Homo sapiens: one gene and its partners. The protein of the gene in region 4 purifies or fractionates together with the protein of the main gene of each other region. This does not show direct contact. Each region holds a gene or a part of one and is shown on either strand. Other genes may lie near its edges.

Region 1 (2,803 bases), on a different chromosome or scaffold from region 4:
GCCATCGCACTCCAGCCTGGGGGACAAGAGCGAGACGTCGTCTCCAAAAAAAAAAAAAAAAAAAAAAGGTAAAGAAAGAAAAAAAAAAAGAAGAGAAAACAAAAAGAGCCCAGATGCACACTCAGGCGACAACTAAATATAAATATCTGGGCTCATGCCTGTTACAGTGGCTTATGCCTGTGACCCCAGCACTTTGTGAGGCTGAGGCAGGAGGATCACTTGAGCCCATGAGTTCAAGATCAGCCTGGGCAACATGATGAAACCCAGTCTCTACTAAATATACAAAAAGTTAGCCAGGAATGGTGGCATCCACCTGAGGTCTCAGCGACTCGCGAGGCTGAGGTGGGAGGATCACCTGAGCTCGGAAGTTCAAGGCTGCAGTGAGTCAAGAATACGCTACCGCACTCCAGCCTGGGCAACAGAGTGAGATCCTGTCTCAAGACACAAACAAACCTCTGTGGAATGACCCTCGAATTGTGCTAACAGAGGAGGTCCTGGGACCTCCTCATCAGACTCTGGGAGAGAGAAGGGGCCCAGGCGGTTGGCAGGTTTCCTTTTATTGGTTCTAGACAGTTTGTGGAAGGAAGAGATGAGGCCATCTAGAGGCCGGCAGGCTCGCCCAGTGCCCCAAACACTGCCACCCTGAAGTAGTGTTGGAAGCTGCTCCAGGGATGTTGCAGCCCTAAGCACAGTGACAGGTGGGGGCAGGAGCAGCAGGGGTCCCCGAGGTGTTGAGAGGCTGGTGAGGGCACAGAGAAGGGACCTCCTGGGGCTGAGGCCCCTGGTGGCCCTATGTGTTGGAGCACGCTGGCGCTTGTCTGTCCGGCCTCCAGTCACGCCAAGGCCTCCTGCCCTGACCACCAGCAATGCTGGCCTCAATGTGGCTGAAGCTGGACGTGTGACTTTGACCCCGTGAGGGGGTCCTGGGAGGGCTCAGTTGCTGCCGTTGCTGTCGTCACTGTCCAGGTATGCACCCAGTTGGCTCAGGGAGGACGCGCCAGGCGTCAGGGGTGTAGGGTTGGCCTCCTTCCTGTTCTGCGGGGCTCCTGGTGGGAGAGCGAGAGTTAGCTCATCTCAGCTCCACAGCAGACAGGCCAGGGACAAGGCACGGGGCCGGCCACCTCTGCAGGTTTGCAAGGTCCAGAGGTGACAGCATGTGAATGGCCTGGCCTTTCTGGATGGCACCTGATGGGACCCATTGCAGATTTACATCTGCACACCCGGGACTCAACAGCTCCGCTTCTGAACAATGGCCAATGCAAACCTTGCCCAGGCAGGCAACGTGCGCTGCCAAGAATGGAAATGGCGCAAAGTTCACAGTCCAGTCACTGTGGACTTAATCGCCTTAGGAAACATCATACTAAGGCAACTAAAAGACAAAAACAGGCCGGGCGCGGTGGCTCATGCCTGTAATCCCAGCATTTTGGGAGGCCGAGGTGAGTGGATCACCTGAGGTCGGGAGTTCCAGACCAGCCTGACCAACATGGAGAAATCCCACCTCTACTAATAATACAAAAATTTAGCCGGGCGTGGTGCTGTAGTCCCAGCTACTTGGGAGGCTGAGGCAGAGAACTGCTCAAACCAGGGAGGCGGAGGTTGCGGTGAGCCGAGATGGCACCACTGCACTCCAGCCTGGGCAACAGAGCAAGACTCTGTCTCAAAAAAAAAAAAAGAAAAAAGAAAAAAGAAAAAAAGAAGCCGCCTGCCTTCTCTGCTCACTCCACTAATTGGTCCTGTGGGGGTCGCAGGCCGCCCCCACCCACCCCATGAAGTCTCTGTAACTGCAAAGGGAGCTGCTGCCACCTACAGGCCACTATAGAAACCGCGCCCGGCTCTGGGAACTCTGTGACCTTACCTGGGGTGGGGGCCGCCTGAGGCTGCCCGTTGCTGCAGTCCGGGTCGGCCTTTGCCTTCTTCACCACGACCAGCCTCGACAGCGGGGGCCGGCTGCCCAGGCTGCCAACGCTCTGCTCCCAGACCTCCACCTTCCTCTTGGGCTTTGGGGCCTGCAGGTGATGGGGACACATGTGGGGGTCTGGCCCGGATCCAGGGCCCAGTCTGGCCCCTCGCCACAACCCCTGCTCACTGCCCCATGCCCACTCTTCCACTGCTGCACTGACCACATTCCTCCTCTGCTCTAAACTCCTCTATGGCTCCCCACTGCCCTAGGCTTGGCACTCAAGGCCTCTGCCCATTCTCCATCCCACATAGCCTGGTCTGGCACTTCCTGAGTCACACCATGGCTTCTCATCTCCACGCCTTTACCCATGCTATTCCCTTCACCAGGGATGCCCCCTTTTCCATGCACTCGCTTGGTGAACTCCTACTCACCCTTCAATACCCAACACAAGACACCCCTCCTCTGAGAAGCCCATCATGGTTCAAGCTCACATGCAGGCTGCATGTCCACGCTCACAGTGCCCTCTGCTGGCTGTTATAACTCTCTCCCCAACTCTGCCGTGAGCTCCTGTCTTCCCCACTGCTGGCTCTGCGGTGCCACAAACAGTTCCTGGCACAAGGAGGTGCTCAATGTACTTGAGAGAACGAGTGAAAATGGAGGAAGCCGCCTTGAGAAAGAGTTAGGGGCAGGTAGAAAAGGCCTCCAGCTCCTTAACTGCAACAGAAGGGACCCTTTAATCTATATTATTAAAAAAATTTTTTTGGGGGGAAGGTCTCACTCTATTGCCCAGGCTGGAGTGCAGTGGTGCAATCATAGCTCACTGCAGCCTCGAACTCCTGGGCTCAAGCGATTCTCCTGCCTCAGCCTCCTGCAGGTGCACGCCACCATGGCAGGCTAACATTT
Region 2 (3,548 bases), on a different chromosome or scaffold from region 4:
CTGCCATCACACCCAGCTAATTTTTTGTATTTTTAGTAGAGACGGGGTTTCACCGTGTTAGCCAGGATGGTCTGGATCTCCTGACCTCGTGATCTGCCCGCCTTGGCCTCCCAAAGTGCTGGGATTACAGGCGTGAGCCACCGTGCCCGGCCATTCCTTTTCATAATTAGTAAAAATATATTTGCTTAAATAATCTTTATTACAACACCTTGTGAAATAAGATAGAGAAATGTGGAAATGATAGCTTACATAACTTGTCCAAGGTCACAAACTAGAAAATGCCAAATTCTAAAATAGGCACTTTCACACAGTTTTCTAATTTATTACTCCGAGCAACCTGATACAGAAGTGCTACATGACTCATTATTACTGTTTTACAGATGATAAAACAATCTGAGATTAGGGACTTTACCCAAATTCATTCACGCAGCTAAAGAAGAGACAGAGTAGTAGGCATTCAAATCCAGACCTTTAAATAGAAATTATGCCTTATTAAACTGGGATTTGGTCTCCTGATGAATAGCCATTTCTCAACAGTGAGATATAGCTATTCTTCTGTAGGGCGAATGGCAGTAAAGATACTAGGGTTGATACTCAAACTAGATTTCCATAGGCTGGTGCTCTCACATCTTTGTAGTTATATGGAAAAAACCAGGATTATACACCAGGGCAAGCAAGCAAGAAAGAATTATCTTTTTCTAGCTTAGCTTTTGAGTTAAGTTAGAAGGAGTTCCAAATATGTGGCAGGTAACACTGCTATTCACATAGATAATTTCTGTCTTTTTGATCACATGATGGTCCTTTATTGGAAAACAAATACAGGCAAAATCAAATAACAGACCCATTTTTTAGAAGTGATTTTCAGATTCCTATAAAATCAATTATGTCATAATTTTTTAGCCTTTCTTTTTCATTCATAAAATATATATCAGAAACTCTACACTCTTACCCAGATTTTAGATTAGCAAGTGACTTTTTTATTTTGCTTCCCCATTCTGCCCTTTGGCCTTTTATTGCCGGTTAACGTCTTCCAGTTACTTTAGAGGAAGGGCTGGGAAAGGTTCAGAACTCATCATTGGGTCTTGCTGCTTATCAGCCCTTCGGGTTTTTTTTTTTTTTTGAGATGGAGTCTCGCTCTGTCGCCCAGGCTGGAGTGCAGTGGTGTGATCTCGGCTCACTGCAACCTCCGCCTCCCGGGTTCAAGCGATTCTCCTGCCTCAGCCTGCCAAGTAGCTGGGACTACAGGCACACGCCACCACGCCCAGCTAATTTTTGTATTTTTAGTGGAGATGGGGTTTCAGCATGTTGGCCAGGGTGGTCTCGATCTCCTGACCTCGTGATCCGCCCGCTTCAGCCTCCCAAAGTGCTGGGATTACAGGTGTGAGCCACCGCACCCTGCCACTTCTGGTTTTAGTGGTTGTAAAATGTAGGTAAGCAAAGCTTAGTTATTAGTTGTAGCTTTATTGACATGTATAATAATTAATTGTAAAAGCATAATTAATATAGTGATTTTTAGTTTACACTTTTTAGAATTTAGAAAGTTTGTCTATTGATAAGTTAAACTTACTTGAGTGATTTGAGTTCCATAATAAAAAAATTGTTTCCTTACCAGTACATCTATACTATATGAGACCGAGTAAAAAAGCTCAGTAAAATTGATAAATGAACATTGCTCAGATTTTTTCCTACTCTAGTTTATAAAGCAATGCCTTGTCATGACACTAGATGGCATAGCACTTCTGCTCAAATCACTGATAGCCAGTTACTTTTTAACTTCAGTAGTTTGTGGTTTTGTTATTCAGTTAATTTACTTGTAATAAGTGGCAAATTAAAAGCAAAAATATCTCAGTATCATCTAAATGTATGCTAATGCATAGTGAATATTATAGTAAACTTAGTACTTTCCATTTTTATATTATCACTACTGAAAATCTCAAAAGAGGAGCTTAGTGATAATTAACTCGTTAAAAAGCAAAAGGTGCCGGGTGCGGTGGCTCACGCCTGTAATCCCAGCACTTTGGGAGGCCGAGGTGGGTGGATCACGAGGTCAGGAGATAGAGACCATCCTGGTTAACACCGTGAAACCCCGTCTCTACTAAAAATACAAAAAATTAGCTGGGTGTGATGGCAGGCACCTGTAGTCCCAGCTGCTTGGGAGGCTGAGGCAGGAGAATGGCGTGAACCTGGGAGGTGGAGATTACAATGAGCTGAGATGGTGCCACTGCACTCCATCCTGGGCAACAGAGCAAGACTCCATCTCAAAAAAAAAAAAAAGCAAAACGTTTGGCTTGTTTTGGTGGTATACCATGTTATTTGGTTTGTGGAGCCAGTGTTTTTGTATGAACATGATGAACTACTGATTAAAACTTTGATTTGTAAATTCCTGGGGTGAGTTGATCTGAATTGTATTTTATTCCACTGCCTACATAAATCCATAGTGCTCTGTGAAGCATATGAATAACATCACCGTGCTGTGCTTGAAGGGGAGTGAAGATGAATGGTATTGATTGTTATCTGCATCAATAAATGAGATATTCTGATTATGGTACAGTCAGCAGAAGGGAATTGAAGGCTTAAGATTTTAATATTTCCTTCAAGGAATTTATGATTTGATGTCAGTAGTTCCTCACATTTTTTAATAATGAAGGCTCCTTTCAATATCAAGATATTTTATAGATCTCCACATGATAACCTGTTGAACTTTTTGAGTATCTGTTGATCAAGAAAATAAAGTCAAAAGCTACAATTAATTAGTAATGTGCTCAAAATAAATTTGTATTTTATAAATCATAACATCTTTTCCATGTTACTCTGTCTATATGGAGTTCTTAATACCACACATTTGCTTAGGGAGATGGAATTAGCAACTAGTCTGTGCTACCCTGTATTTTTTTTTTAACCATGTAGTTGGATTTTTTAAAATACAATAAAAGAGTTCACTTTTCCAGGTTTGACAACATTTTTATGAATTGGAAATTTTCTGTGGCTACAGATACTATTAACATTTTGGAAAGGTGTAAAGAACATTGTTTTAATGTAAGGCTCTTCTCTAACCTCCCTCCCCTCTCCAAATTCTCCATAATATGAAGTAGGAAGATATGTATTTTTCTGTTGCCATTAAAATGTTCTGGCCATCGTGGGAGTGGGGATGGGGAGGGCGGGGATGGGAATTAGAACTTACTAGAATAAAATTCCAAATAGAGGTTTGGGGAAACCTACTTGTGAGTGCTTTTTAACCTCAAAATAAGGATTTGGGGTGGGTGGAGAAGGTGATGGGGCAGAAGAAGTTGTTTTTGGAGGAGAGAAAGCAGATTGAAAGGAAAAGGACAGCTGATAGCCACTTAAATAATGTCATCGTTAGAGTGATACCTATTTTTTGTAAAAAGAAAACAATATGCTCCATTCTTACAAAGCATTGATTGTATTTTAATATATACAATGTAAATACTATCATGCAGTGGTGTCCAAGGGAGAGAATACAGTCATGAGTTCTTAGTTTCTGTTATTGGTTGGGCCAATAAAGCCCCTTCATCATCCTTCTTTTCTGC
Region 3 (4,185 bases), on a different chromosome or scaffold from region 4:
CAAAAGTGGAAACAACCCAAGTGCCCATCAACAGCACAAACATTTATACCATTGAATGCCTTACGGCAAGGTAACAGGATCAAGTACAGCTACATGGAACACATAGATGAGGGAAATAAAACACAAAATACATTAAAATATAAAAAGCACAATTCTATGTATATAAGGTTACATAACATTTTCAAAATCAGCAACGTTTTAATTAATTTAATTAATTTAGAATTCTCCTGCAGAGGAGTTTTCTCTCTTTTCTCCAATGTGTTAATTTATTTAATCATTTATTTACAACAGCACAGATTAATATTTATTTTATATTTTGGAATATGATATAGTAGTATTTTAGTTTGTTCCTTAAATTGTTCAAGATTTGGCCATTGGGAGCTGTTTTATTGGTTTTTGTACCCCTCTAAAATTACCCCATCAATGCTTTTGTTTGTTTTCTATTTATCACATCCTTATTTTCCAGCACTCCAAGATGCTCTAGGCCCTTTCTGTATATTTCCTTTCCAGATTTAGAAACTGTATTTCTTCATCAGTATTGCTAGATTGTTTTTTTCTTTAAAAGTGTTAGATTTCAGTTTTATTAATCATCTTTTTAAAAAAACATATTGTCCCTTTTATTTGTAATTCTATTTTTATTTTAATGTTTTATTTTTTGTTTTGGTTTTGTTTTACTAATTGCTTGACTTCAACATAAAAAAAGTTTTAGAAATGTGGTTATTAATTTTCAAGTAAATATGATTGGATTCAGGTTTTTTATTTTTAACCTTCAATATTATTTCACTGAGGTCCAGATGTGCTGAATTTATTGACCTATTAAATTTTAATTGACATTTATTTTGTAGTCTTGTATTGGGAAATTCTTCTGTTTTCTATATATTTTTGGTTGTTGCAGGTTATATGATCAAAATTGTTGTTTGTTGTGCAAATTATTATAGCATTACTAGTTTTGTTCTCTGCACTATTGATTTCTGAGAAAACGGTGTTACGGGGAAAAAACAAACTTCCATCATGAGTGCAGATTTTTCAGTTTTACCTTATAACTCTCAGTCTTGGCTATGTGTCACTGTTATGTGTTTAGGTGCGTTAAGTTCATCACTGTAATGTTTTCCTAGTGAATTTTCTTTTCAATAACTATGAAATGTGCTCCTTTGATCCTATCAATACACTGGATATTAATATTGTTGCCCTAGGTTTCTTTTGTTTAATATTTGTCTGGATTGCCTGTTCCCATAAATTGACCTTTAATCAGTTAGCTTTGTTCTTAAGATTGGTTTAAAACGTAGAATAATAGGGAGGAGCATGGGAGGGTGGGACGTCTAATGTAAATCCAGCCCAGTGATTACATTAGCTGGGCGCTGATTAGGTTAGGATGTTGCCCAGGTACAAGGCCAGGATCTTCGGGGCCTGGCTTCATTTGGAGTTCAGCTACCAAAAGGAAACCTTCCTCTGGGTCCTGGAGTATTTGGCCTGAAATTGGGAACTCGGAAGTTGCTGCTCCAGGGCGCTCCCTGCGGAGCTCCGCCGCCCGCCTCTCCGCCCGGCCTTTCCCGGCGTCCCCACGCGGGGCGCAACCGCGAGAAAGAAACGCAGGTCGCACCGTCAGCGCCCAGAGCAGCGCCAGTTTCCGGGCCCGGGCTGCTCTCGGAGCCATGAGCTGCGGCCGCCCCCCTCCCGACGTGGACGGCATGATCACCCTCAAGGTGGACAACCTGACCTACCGCACCTCTCCCGACAGCTTGAGGCGCGTGTTCGAGAAGTACGGGCGCGTGGGCGACGTGTACATCCCGCGGGAGCCCCACACCAAGGCGCCCCGGGGCTTCGCTTTCGTCCGCTTTCACGACCGGCGCGACGCCCAAGACGCCGAGGCCGCCATGGACGGGGCGGAGCTGGACGGACGCGAGCTGCGGGTGCAGGTGGCGCGCTATGGCCGCCGGGACCTGCCCCGCAGCCGCCAGGGAGAGCCACGCGGCAGGTCCAGAGGCGGCGGCTACGGACGGCGGAGCCGCAGCTACGGGCGGCGGAGCCGCAGCCCCAGGCGGCGACACCGCAGCCGATCCCGGGGTCCCAGCTGCTCCAGGTCCCGCAGCCGATCTCGCTATAGGGGTTCTCGCTATAGCCGGTCTCCCTACAGCCGATCTCCTTACAGCCGGTCGCGCTACAGCCGCTCTCCCTACAGCAGATCTCGCTACAGGGAATCTCGCTACGGCGGATCTCACTACAGCTCATCTGGTTACAGTAACTCTCGCTACAGCCGATATCACAGCAGCCGGTCTCACTCGAAGTCTGGGTCCTCCACTAGCTCTCGCTCTGCATCAACCTCCAAATCGAGCTCTGCGCGACGATCCAAGTCCTCCTCGGTCTCCAGGTCTCGCTCGCGGTCCAGGTCTTCATCTATGACCAGGAGTCCTCCCCGGGTATCCAAGAGGAAATCCAAGTCAAGGTCGCGATCCAAGAGGCCCCCCAAGTCTCCTGAAGAGGAAGGACAGATGTCCTCTTAAGAAAATGATGCATCAGGAAGCAACGTGATGGAGGACTTGGGGGAAAAGGATCACATACTCAGTCTATGGAAGCAACGTCCCTGGAAGAAGAGGCTGCCTATTGAAAAGGTTGTGTCACACTTTTCTACCTTTTTGCCAGTTTGAAGCTTTGCATCAGGTGGCAAAATTCATTCTATGTGCCGTTTTGTTGTTATTCACATTTTATTGTAACTTAGGAGGTGAACGACCTAAGATTACGTTATTGGGTTTGGATATTTGAGGCAAAAATTTATTTTTATTTCTATAGTGATGACTGTTTTGGTTTGAAATGAACAGATTGGTAACCTAATTTGTGGCCTCCTGACTTTTAAGGAAACGTGTGCAGCCATTACACACAGCCTAACGCTGTCAAGACATGCTTCAACATTGCCTTCATTCCTTAAAAACCTACAAAAGGTGGTGTAAATTAATATGGATAATTTTATTTACCTCCAGGTCTAAAAGGTAGTGTGACCCAAATTTGTATAAAGATTTTTCATGTGAAAGGACTGGGGTTTTAGCAAACACAGGTCTAATCTCTTTTGTGTTTTTGTGCACCAGGCCCGGCTGCGTAGCAGTTGAGTGATGCTGGTTAGCTATTAAGGTGGCCTGTTGCAGTGCAGAGTGCTGAGCTGCTTCCTGTTTTCTTCTGATTGCTCCTGGGGAAAACACGCCTTGTCCTGAAGAACAAATGGCTGTCCAGTTTATTAAAATGCCTGTCAACTGCACTTCCAGTCACCCAGGCCTTGCAGATAAATAATGGAGCATGCAGTGAGCACATCTAGCTGACGATAATCACACCTTTTCCCCCGTCTTTTCTGAAAAATTGTAAATCTGATCATATCAACATGTATGAACTTAAAATATGGAGAATGTTATGGAAGAAATAGTTTATAAGTTTGTTAAGTACTTATAACATGGTTTATCTTTTTGATTATTAATTTTTTACGCTAACCATTGTTTCTGTAGTTAAAATTGTTTTCTTGGTGTTATCTTTTCTCAGAATAAAATTAGAAACTTTTGATGGAAAGTAGGTTGTTTTATTTTCTGTATGACTTTTGGATATTTGTACTTTTGAGAAAATTATTAGCACCAAGTGTTTCTCAAAATATAATTTTTAAAAAATCCTTAATAGGCTTTTAGCTATGTGCTTTATTGTTTTATCACAATGCAGTTTATTTGTAGTTTCTCTCTTTTTTCCTCACACCTATGGTTTTTTTACTTCCAAAATTATTTTCAAATAATCCATTTTTGGCTTTCATCATTATCCCTACTAGATGTTATGTGTTCTTTTGCAATTGTTTCTGCTTATACCTTTACTAGCAAAGGGAAAAATAACAATTTGGTGTCAATGATCTGGTGACAATAGGATTACATTGGAGCCAATTGAATAAATTTATTCTTTCAATCATATGGATCTTCATTAATATTTTTGACTGAATTATCAATTAAAAATATTTCATTCCCTTTGTGCAGAAACTGCTAAATCCAGGGTTCGATTCTTGAATGAACTGGCAAGGTGGCTGTGGTCTGTAGATATACATCCCACATTTTGTTGTTATAACAGTTAGTAGTTAGTATTGCTTTCATATATAGACTCCAGAATCTAAATTTTACGATAATGACATTTCTTCTGGTCATGACAAATGTAATATTTTACAAATAT
Region 4 (3,548 bases):
AGGGTAGCTAGGAGGGTTACGGGGTGGCTGGGAGGGTTACGCCCACCTGATCAGCGAGGTAGACTTCTCCTGGGTGGCGCTGTGGGCTGCCTGGGGCCAGGTGGAGCCTCTTCGCCTTTGAACCACCCCCTGCCTGCAGTTCTGGATGTCTGCACTGGCCACCACCATCCCAGTTCCCTGTGGGGCCTTCATGCCTGTCTTTGTCATTGGTGAGTTCTCAGCTGCCTGCTCACCCAGCCTGCACCTTCCTCAGCCTCTGGCCACCCCCCCAGCCAACCCTCTGCCCAAGAGCGGGTTTTTGGTCCAGCCCTAGCCCGAACCCTGACCCCACAGGGCTGTGCCCTACACTGAATGACCCGTTGGCCCCTCCCTCACCCTCTGACCCTCTCTCTTCCTAGTGCCCCCTGCCCTCCCCCTCCACTGCCTCTTTCTCTTCCCACCCCCCTCCCTGAAGGAGCAGCATTTGGGCGTCTGGTGGGTGAAAGCATGGCTGCCTGGTTCCCAGATGGAATTCATACGGACAGCAGCACCTACCGGATTGTGCCTGGGGGCTACGCTGTGGTCGGTGAGTGCCTCAGGTCCCATCGGCCTTGGGAGACCCCCCCACCCACGCCCCAGCCACAGGGTCCGAGACTCTGGTGCCCCCTGCTGGCAGAAACCAGGCTTCCCTCAGATGCACAGGTCCAATCCCAGGACTGTATTGGGCAGCCCTGAGGGACCCACTCAGGACCTGCCCTGGTTGTGGAGGGTCTTCTGGGACCTGGGCACCCTGAGGAGACTGAGTGTGACTGTCCCCAGGGGCAGCTGCGCTGGCAGGAGCGGTGACACACACAGTGTCCACGGCTGTGATCGTGTTCGAGCTCACAGGCCAGATTGCCCACATCCTGCCTGTCATGATCGCCGTCATCCTGGCCAACGCTGTCGCCCAGAGTCTGCAGCCCTCCCTCTATGACAGCATCATCCGAATCAAGAAACTGCCCTACCTGCCTGAGCTCGGCTGGGGCCGCCACCAGTACGGAGGGCTGGGTGCCAAGGGGGCTGTGGGTGAAGGGCAGAGGGCATCCTAGATCCCCCTACAGCCACCTCTAGCAAGGTCCTGGAGCCTACGAAGCTGGGAGATGAGCCACCTTCGTCCACACTCTGGAGGGGCTGTAGCTGGCCCCTGCTGTTCAGAAAGAAGGGTGGGAGCACCCCTTGGTCCTTAGCTCCCGTCCCCATGGATGGGCTCTGGAGCCCTCCTTGTGGCCCTGGGATGGCAATGCTCTGGGCACCTCTCCCCATGCTGACCACAAACCAAGCGCCTCTCTCGGCCCCCAGGCAGTACCGGGTGCGTGTGGAGGACATCATGGTGCGGGATGTTCCCCATGTGGCCCTCAGCTGCACCTTCCGGGACCTGCGTTTGGCACTGCACAGGACCAAGGGCCGAATGCTGGCCCTAGTGGAGTCCCCTGGTGAGGCCAGGAGGGGTCCCAGGTGCTAGGGGCATTGCCCAGGGTCGAAGCTTCGGGAAGGGGCAGGGAGCTCAGGACCAGTCTCCTTGGTTCCAAAGGGAATGGACCAGCACTTGCCAGGTGGGGGCTTCCCTCTGGTGTGTGGCCTGCATGCAAGGCCCCCCACTCTGAGTGTGAGAGAAGGACGGGGCTGGAGGGCTCCCTCTCAGCTCCTGAGTCCTTCCACCTGTTCTGTCCAGAGTCCATGATTCTGCTGGGCTCCATCGAGCGTTCACAGGTGGTGGCATTGTTGGGGGCCCAGCTGAGCCCAGCCCGCCGGCGGCAGCACATGCAGGAGCGCAGAGCCACCCAGACCTCTCCACTATCTGATCAGGAGGGTCCCCCTACCCCTGAGGCTTCTGTCTGCTTCCAGGTGAGGGGAAAAGCCACAAACGCTTCCTAAATGTCATTGTGTAGACTGATTGGGAGGGTGGTCTGGGGCCGTGGCCTCACCAGCCCCTTCCTGCCTATGCAGGTGAACACAGAAGACTCAGCCTTCCCAGCAGCCCGGGGGGAGACCCACAAGCCCCTAAAGCCTGCACTCAAGAGGGGGCCCAGTGTCACCAGGAACCTCGGAGAGAGTCCCACAGGTAAGCCCATGTCTCCTGTGTCCACAGAGCCTCAGCCAAGCTACTGAGATCCATTAGAGTCCCTGCCCAGCCCTGTTGCTGGGGTACATCCCAGCTGGAAGAGGCTGCCCACATGGGCCAGGGCTGGAACTGGGATACCTCTCCCTGTGTCTTCCTTACCTTTCCTGGTCCTCTCCCCAAAAGATGACATTGCCCCCTGGGGCCTTATGTTTGGGAACACAGGGAGCGCAGAGTCGGCAGGCATCGCCCTCCGGAGCCTCTTCTGTGGCAGTCCACCCCCTGAGGCTGCTTCGGAGGTGAGTGGCTGGAGCCTGTCCTCCTAGCTTGCTTTTTCCCCAGCTCCCTCTCCAATGCTGAGACCACGTCATTAACCCTGCAGTGCCTGCCTCTATTCTCCCTGCCCTTCGGCCCTCCCTGCTGTCAGCTCAGGTCCTGTGGCGTGCCCTTTCCCCTGGGCTCCACCACTTCCCCTCACCTCCCCTCTCCCTATAACCTCAACTCCTCATCTTTCTGGTTTGGCTCTAACAAAACTGAAGAAGTTGGAATCCTGTGAGAAGCGCAAGCTGAAGCGTGTCCGAATCTCCCTGGCAGTAAGTATGCCTGCTCTTCTAGCATCTCGGCGGCACCGGGCAGGGAGGGCAGGGTCTAGGCTGGATAAACTCCAGAGCCCCTAGCTGCCAGCCTCCCTCCCTCTCTACTAGAGTGACGCGGACCTGGAAGGCGAGATGAGCCCTGAAGAGGTAAGGTGCCACTGGACTCTGGACCCTGTTTCTTCCTGGTTGTGTTCAATCATCATGTTGGCTGCTGTCCCCATGGGAGGGACCACGGGGTTGGAAAAAGGGCAGGCCAGCTTTCAGGGAGGTGAGGTCAGCTACAGGCACCTTCTCCCTAAACCTCATAGTCTCTTCCCCTCAGATTCTGGAGTGGGAGGAGCAGCAACTAGATGAACCTGTCAACTTCAGTGACTGCAAAATTGATCCTGCTCCCTTCCAGCTGGTGGAGCGGACCTCTTTGCACAAGGTAGGGCCAGCAGCCTGGCCCAGGGCTGGTCTAGGCTCTCAGGACACAGTGGGGATCTTGGTCCCCCTACAAGTTTGGACTCAGGCCAGTGGGGAAGGAGGGAGGAGAAGGGAGTTGGCTCAGTGCGGAGATGTTTTTTAGACATACTGCTTGGATGATGGGAGGTGGGAGCAGCCTCCTCCTGCTCTGTGGTGGAGCCAGGCATCGTTTTTCCTCTGCTCAGCCTTGCCCTCGAGGGAACTCTGGACCAACGAAGCAACAAAGACAGGGATTGAGCTGGGTGGAAGCCAGAAGGCCAGGCCAGGGTCAGAGCTAGGCGGGAGGCCACCACAGCCCAGCAAGGTTGATACGCCCATGCGGAAAAAAACGGGTGAGAAACAGGCAGGATAAGAAAATGCAATAAACAAGCCAACAAACATCCAAGTAGGGGTGGGGAGACTGCAGAGTA

The links.
Region 1: the proteins of CLCN2 (region 4) and YJU2 purify together in Homo sapiens (affinity purification with mass spectrometry; one large-scale study listed by BioGRID and IntAct). This does not show direct contact.
Region 2: the proteins of CLCN2 (region 4) and C1orf52 purify together in Homo sapiens (affinity purification with mass spectrometry; one large-scale study listed by BioGRID and IntAct). This does not show direct contact.
Region 3: the proteins of CLCN2 (region 4) and SRSF8 purify together in Homo sapiens (affinity purification with mass spectrometry; one large-scale study listed by BioGRID and IntAct). This does not show direct contact.

The regions. Positions count from the first base shown.
Region 1 is NC_000019.10:4,266,827-4,269,629, reverse strand, and holds the end of YJU2 (splicing factor YJU2), read right to left. Parts: intron 2,007-2,803; coding exon 1,856-2,006; intron 1,047-1,855; coding exon 934-1,046; 3' UTR 542-933; downstream 1-541.
Region 2 is NC_000001.11:85,253,122-85,256,669, reverse strand, and holds part of C1orf52 (UPF0690 protein C1orf52), read left to right. Parts: intron 1-3,548.
Region 3 is NC_000011.10:95,065,575-95,069,759, forward strand, and holds the start of SRSF8 (serine/arginine-rich splicing factor 8), read left to right. Parts: upstream 1-1,344; 5' UTR 1,345-1,652; coding exon 1,653-2,501; 3' UTR 2,502-4,185. UniProt on the Homo sapiens protein: Involved in pre-mRNA alternative splicing.
Region 4 is NC_000003.12:184,351,565-184,355,112, reverse strand, and holds part of CLCN2 (chloride channel protein 2), read left to right. Parts: intron 1-139; coding exon 140-209; intron 210-398; coding exon of another isoform or gene 399-454; coding exon 455-565; intron 566-798; coding exon 799-1,012; exon of another isoform or gene 1,013-1,013; intron 1,014-1,317; coding exon 1,318-1,451; intron 1,452-1,690; coding exon 1,691-1,863; intron 1,864-1,965; coding exon 1,966-2,080; intron 2,081-2,302; coding exon 2,303-2,376; intron 2,377-2,616; coding exon 2,617-2,670; intron 2,671-2,781; coding exon 2,782-2,820; intron 2,821-2,995; coding exon 2,996-3,100; intron 3,101-3,323; coding exon of another isoform or gene 3,324-3,416; exon of another isoform or gene 3,417-3,548. UniProt on the Homo sapiens protein: Voltage-gated and osmosensitive chloride channel. Forms a homodimeric channel where each subunit has its own ion conduction pathway.